Linked DNA regions of Homo sapiens. The protein of the gene in region 2 interacts with the protein of the main gene of each other region in a pairwise test. Each region holds a gene or a part of one and is shown on either strand. Other genes may lie near its edges.

The links.
Region 1: the proteins of ZMYND12 (region 2) and ARMC8 interact in binary tests that used the Homo sapiens proteins (3 or more experiments, as listed by UniProt).

What each region holds. Positions count from the first base shown.
Region 1 is NC_000003.12:138,218,301-138,221,800, forward strand, and holds part of ARMC8 (armadillo repeat-containing protein 8), read left to right. Parts: intron 1-3,500. UniProt on the Homo sapiens protein: Component of the CTLH E3 ubiquitin-protein ligase complex that selectively accepts ubiquitin from UBE2H and mediates ubiquitination and subsequent proteasomal degradation of the transcription factor HBP1.
Region 2 is NC_000001.11:42,432,023-42,435,522, reverse strand, and holds part of ZMYND12 (zinc finger MYND domain-containing protein 12), read left to right. Parts: intron 1-137; coding exon 138-249; intron 250-2,234; coding exon 2,235-2,380; intron 2,381-3,500. UniProt on the Homo sapiens protein: Required for sperm flagellum function and male fertility.

The DNA of each region.
Region 1 (3,500 bases), on a different chromosome or scaffold from region 2:
TCCTTAGTCACTGCTTCCTTCATGCCCCTTCTGTGATCAAAAATATGATTGCTCCTTAATCCATCTCCCTTTAGTTTGTCTCATCTCCCTATCACTTTTCTAACTTTATGTTCCATGCCACCCTAAAGCGAACTTGTTTTTCAGTTCAGGCTCCTTGTATTGCCCCAGGAACATGCCATTTTCATTTCCAATATGGTCTTGTATGAACGATTTCTCCTTTTGTCCTCCCATCTGCTTATCCAAGTCCTGACTATTGTCTAAGGTTTATCTTAGTTCTTAACCATTGCCTCAAAACCTTTTAAGCTTATTGAGCATCTACTTTTCTTTACCTTATAAACATTCAGTTTTTAATTTAGTACTGACTTACATTGATAGTGTTATTTTTGCCACTCCACGGATATTGTGAACTCCTCAGACCAGGCATCCCATTGTGTGATACTTTCGTATACTTCATAGAGGCTAGCACAATGCTGAGCTCAAAAACTAGTTGTTGAATTTCAGTAAAAGTAAGTAGAGCATTTTTCCCAACATTAAAAGTTAGTGGGCATGAGATGACATTCTTTTGGTCTACTGGGAAAAGGGTATCTGACTAAAAGTTAGAAACACTTTTATTTTGCATAAAAATGTAACATTAAAACACAGAAGGAAAAAGAAAATGAATTCACTGAATTCATTTGTCTTTTCCATTGGTTCGTTGTCAATGTCTGATGTCCTGGCCATAATGGAAAAAACAGTTGGCATAAAAGACATGGGTTGAGACTGGCTCTGTCATTTAATATTGGGTTCTGAAAAAAGGCCAATCCTGAGTTGTAGCTTTCTCTCTGTAAAATGGAGTTAATATTACTCTAGATTATGATGAAGATGAAATTAAGTAGTGGATATGGAATGCTTTGTAAATTTGAAAGTAATGTAGAAATCTTGGATAGTGTTGTTGTGTTCCCATCTTGGATGATAGCTGTGAGTTTGCATTTTACAAAAATAATGGATATCTAGAATCACTATAAATAATGATCTACTGACAGTAACTGCTTTGATATTTCCAGGTCAGATTGGCTTTCTTGCCTCTCAGGAGGAGATAGACTTTTACTCTAACAAAGTGATGACCTGGGGGTTTCAGGGCATGCTTCCTGAGGAAGTGACATTCAGACCTGAAGGATGAGTAAAGCTAGTCAGGGGAAAGTATGAGGGAGGGGATAAGGAGATGACGGAGAAAGAATAACTACACTCTGGGAACTGAAAGAAGCTTCATCTAGATGGCTGAATGTTGTCATCTGAAATTGATTGCTTAATCCTGTTAATCCTTTTGATTTTAATTCTTCATGGAAGTGATCTATTAACATTCCTTTATAGCAACAATTGAATAGAATTTATTAACATCTTTTTTTCCTTATCTAGCACAGGTATATTTACTTACTAAAGCCAAAGCGAGAATCTTTTTCTTTAGACATTGTTCCATTGTATTGTGTTCTCTTTAGTTGGCATTTCCTCTGTTGCCATCAGTTACCTCCTTCATGTCCTTTTTGTAAACTATTAAGAGAATTAGAAAATTGGTGTTGGACAGGTTTTTGTTTGCTCTTGTCTGTAAAAACATGGCATGGTTTGAGATGTTTGGAATGGGTTCATTTGGTAATGTTAGGGACCGCTCATTTCTGCTTAAGAAGAATGGAGAGGAAAAACTGGGGAAATATTAGGGTTGGGAGTTCTGGAATAGAAAGCATTCAGAATGGCACTTAGCCTACACAGACTCTAAGTAGGTAGGGGCTGGATAAATGAATGTTCTACATTAGTATAGGCAGAACACATTAAGAGAAAGGAAGACAATGAAAGTGAACAACAAGCTGGTAGGTTAAGGTCCATATGCTGATGATTAGGAACTAAAGCCTCTAAAGAAAACAGGCATCCATGAGGATGCGGGAGCTTAGAAATCTCTTACTAACTTTAACTTTGCTAATTGATCCTTTGATATCATATAGTTTTATATTCATGTATCAGAACTTGCTAACAACCTCAGTAAACTTCATTCAGTTCAGTCCCATAAACAACAACAAAAAAATTGCTACTTATTTCTTGTAAACCATATAGAAGATCTGAGGGATACTTTACAGAGGGATAGGTCAGGCCTGGAAAAAAAGCCCTACCCTCAGGCACTGAGCTAATGGAAGAAAGACCAGGCATTCTCAGTATTTGGCTTGACTTGTAAAAATGCCATTCAGAAACTTGTAGGGAAAATCTGCTTTTAGCACATCACTAGTTGTTGCAGTATTTTTCTGCAATAATCAAAAAAGGCAATTGAAGACAAGGGTTAATCGTTACCAGGTTCTTTAATGCCAGTAAATATGATTGGTGTTAGAAATGTATGCTGACTATAACATTTATTTGTTGATTTTTTTTTCTTTTTTTTTTTTTTGAGATGGAGTCTCGTTCTGTCACCCTGACTGGGGTGCAGTGGCGCGATCTCTGCTCACTGCAACCTCCACCTCCCCAGCTGAAGTGATCCTCCTACCTTAGCCCCCCAGGTAGCTGGGACCACAAGTGCGTGCCACCACACCTGGCTAATTTTTGTATTATTTGTAGAGATGGAGTTTCGCCATGTTGTTCAGTCTGATCTTGAACTCCTGAGTTCAAGCAATCTGCCTGCCTAGGCCTCCCAAAGAGCTGGGATTACAGGTGTGAGTCACCGTGCCCGGCCAGGGAAGTTTTTTTAAACATTTTATTAGTAGTACTGGGTTTATTTTGAGCTATTTATTTTTTCTCTACATTTCCTTTTGAACCAACCACAAATTTGTGAGCCAAGTGATCAGTGGTAGAGGTTCTCTTATTGTGGAATAGAGTTTTGCTCCTGGTGAAGTATAGAGCTCTGTATAGCTAGAATAAAAAATACTGTGAATATCTGAGAAATGTAAAAGATTCTTTGTTATTTTTTAAATCGCCTTAAGAGATAACTGGCTGCTTAAGCAAAAATAGTAACAATGTATTATGTTGTTTCTAAGCAATTTAAAAATATTGTATAACAGCAGCCCAAAAAATGAATGGGAAAGTGGAAATACATATGCAAGGCTCTTAAAATACATGTGCAATGGGCTAATATCACTTGAAGACTGACTGTGATAAATTAAAAGATGCATTGGAAAATAACAAAGGAGTACAGTTAGTAAGACAATAAAGCAGATAAAATGGAATTGTAAGAAATAATATATAAAGAAGTAAAAAAAAAAGTGAACAAAGTGTGATCATTGAAACAAGGAGTTAATGTTCTGTGGGCTGTTTTTTCTGTTGTTGTTGTTGTTCGTTTAACTCACTCCCTACTCTTAGAGCTGAGCGTGAGGGTGGCCTGTATTCCTTTGTATCCAAAGTATTGGTAGGTACCCTTTCTAGAAGAACTCAATTCTGTACTGGAAGTCTTTCGCCAGTACTCAGGATATCTCTCACTTTCTACAATACGCCGTTTTACAGCCCCCACATTCACTCTGCACCTATCTCTATCCCTTCATTAGTACTTT
Region 2 (3,500 bases):
TCTGCCTCCAGGCACAGTAAGAGAGAGAACCTCCAGGTTGTCCAGAAGCCCGGCCAAATGCGCTACTCTCCTCACCTGCCTGGTCCGACGGCTGAGGTCTGGCCTGCTTGTTGTATTACCATCTCTTTTCCCAACAGGTCTCTGAGATCTGGCATGCATATTTGAACAATCACTATCAAGTCCTCTCACAGGCTCACATCCAACAAATGGATTTACTGGGCAAACTATTTGAGAATGACACTGGCTTGGGTAAGTGGCAGTTTTCCCTGAAGGGAGAGCAGTGACTTCATCTCACCCAATACACAGACCTTGTCCCTAAGAGGGAAAGCAGCTGTCCCTGTCATGAAGCACACCATTGCCACCTTCCCCATGTTGCTGATGGAGAAAACTGAGACACGGGGATCAAAGAGATTTTACCAGTGTTGGGAAGAATTCAGATCCCTATCATCACACATAGCCATTCGGGGGTTACTAAGGGACAGATTTAGAGGGAAAAAAAGACCACATCAAAGCCCCCTGTGATTTCTGCAGAGCATCCATTTCTATGTTATCCCTCCAGGGCAGCAGTCCCAATCTCTCCCTGGCACCAGGGACCCGTTTCATGGAAGACAATTTTTCCATGGACTGGGGGGCGTGGGAGGAATGGTTTCAGGAGAATTCAAGTGCATTACATTTATTGTGTACTATGTTTTTATTATTATTAATATATTGTAATATATAATGAAATAATTATACCATGCATCATAATGTAGAATCAGTGGGAGCCCTGAGCTTGTTTTCCTGCAACTAGATGGTCCCATCTGGGAGTGATGGGTGACAGTGACAGATCATCAGGCATTAGATTCTCATAAGGAGTGTACATCCTAGATCCTTTGCATGCACAGTTCACAATAGGGTTCACGCTCCTAAGAGAATCTGATGCTGCTGCTGAACTGACAGGAGGTGGAGCTCAGGTGGTAATGCAAGCAATGGGGAGTGGCTGTAAATACAGATGAAGCTTTACTCGCCCCTACCACCCCTGCTCACCACCTGCTGTGCAGCCCGATTCCTAACAGGCCACAAAACAGTTCTGGTCCATGGCCTGGGGGTTGGGGACTCTTGCTCCAGGACACGTAAGCCAAGGTAGACTCTACACAGAAGGTGCATTGCTGATTTCTTCTGGTGCCTTAACTTCATGCTTTACTGAACAGTGAGCTTCTCAGTGGCAGGGCCCAGTTGGATTAAACTGTATTCCCCGGGCCAGCAAAGGGCTAAGTGTTGAATAGTACCGTACAGCATCATGCCCTCAGAGACAATGAAAAGACACAGAGGATCTAGTTTCTGCTCAAAAGAGACATACAGTGCAGTTGGTGATATAGAACCTATAGGCAATAACAAAAGAACATTCCTGTGAGTACAAATTATGTTACAAGATGAGTCCCAGAATGAAGAGGTGAGGACAGCTGGGTGGTGTTGAAGAAGGAAGACTCTTTGGAGGAGAGGTTTTGAGCTAAAGTTTAAAAAATTAATAACTTTATTGAATTTTCTCTCATTATGTAAATAGTTCATGTTATAGCTGAAAACTTGGAAATCATAGATATCCAAAGATAGCCAACCTTAACATGATGGTGTATATCCTTTTCGTCTTTTTCTCTAAGCTTAGTACTTGTATAAGTGCTTTTAAATGCATGTAGTGACTTCTCAGTAAATGATGACTAAAGTAGGACCAAAAACTACTGGGGAAAATAGTAAACAGACTCTCAGAGGGAAGCATGAAGGTTGTTGCTTACGCATCTATGGCCTAGACGAGAAGAGTTAAGCTGCTGCAGCTGCAAGAAGTCCCTTCCCCCAGTTCTCTCCTCTCAGCTGTAGAGTGGAATCTGAGTTGGACCCAAGGAATCTGCCTGTGGCAGATTATCTGTGTTTGTAAGCCCAAGAGATCTAGAGTTCAGGACTCCGAAAGAGAGAAACCTTAGCAACTTTGGGACCTGTGGGAGTGAGCCTATTTTTAGGCTACTCTGATAATGGCATGCTAAGCAAAGCTGGAAAGCGGTCTGAAACTCCTGCTTCGGAGCTTCCTGCTTTGCACCTGGAGGGAGTCCTCTAGGTAAAAAACTTGCTGTAATTGGTGCTATTTCCACCAGTGCCCTTGGGAAGGCTTCAGCAGACCAGGCGCTTTAACAGCTGAGTGCTTTTGATGAGGGCAGACTCAGTTGCCAAGAGCCTGTTTTTTCTTTCTTCCCCTTCCAATGCAGATGAAGCCCAAGAAGCAGAAGCCATTCGCATCCTGACTTCAATCTTGAACATTCGAGAATCTACATCTGACAAAGCCCCCCAAAAAACCATCTTTGTTCTGAAGATCCTGGTCATGTTTTACTACCTGATGATGAATTCTTCAAAGGCAAGTTTCCCTAAAAAAGCAACACGTCTAAAATGAAGGTAGAAATTCAACTAGTTGAACTCAAAATTTGTGTTTTGCCCAATTCCAATAGCTTTTGCCCTCAGAGCAAGCCCTCACTCCAAAGAGGTTCAGATGCTCACGATGTTTCTCCTGTGTTGAGTCTAGCCTGCATAATGGAAATTGGATTGTCTTCTTCCCCCGAGGGTTCCCAGTCTTGCATAGATAAAGAGAGTCTGAGGCAGTGCTGGGAAGCCTGCAGGGCAGGAAGGCTCTGGGGAGCCTTGGATGGATGAAGTAGCCGCTCTAACTCCACTCAGTTACTGAGTTCCCTGTTGCTGCGGGGATTCAGGCAGAAATGCATTGCCATGAAATGATTCAAAAAGTAACTTTTTGAGTACTTTTACCTACCAGTTATTGGCCTAAACCCTTTACATAATTATCATACTTAATGCTTACACCAACATTAATGAGGTAGCTATTTTATTATCTCTACTTTACAAACAAGGAAACTGAGGCACCGAGAGGGTCAATTCTTTGCCCAATGTCTTACAGACAGCAAGTAGCATATCTCAGGTTTATTGACTTATTGGTTGATTCTCTCATTCATTCAAACATTTATTGAAAATCTACCATTTGTAAAGCACTAATCTAGGGACTGGGGATACAGTGGTGATCCATACGTTTCCTATCTCTATGGCACTGGTGTTTTTTGGAGGAGTGGAAATAAACATATGTATGTGTAATATAATTTCAGATAGTAGAAACTGTTATAAAGAAAACTAGCCAGGCACAGTGTCTCATGACTGTATTCCCAGTACTTTGGGAGGCTGAGGAGGGATGATTGCTTATGTCCCGGAGTTCAAGACCAGCCTGGGCAACATAATGAGACCCACTCTCTACTAAAAATAAAAATAAAAAGATCAGCCGGGCTAGAGGTGTGCACATGTAGTCCCAGCCACTCGGGAGGCTGAGATAAGAGGATTACTTGAGCCCAGGAGATTGAGGCTGCAGTGAGCCGTGCTTGTGCCTCTGCACTCTAGCCTGGGTGACAGAGCAAGATCCTGTCTCAAAAAAAAAAAAAAGAAAAAGAAAAAGAAAAGAAGAAGAAGAAGAAGAAAAA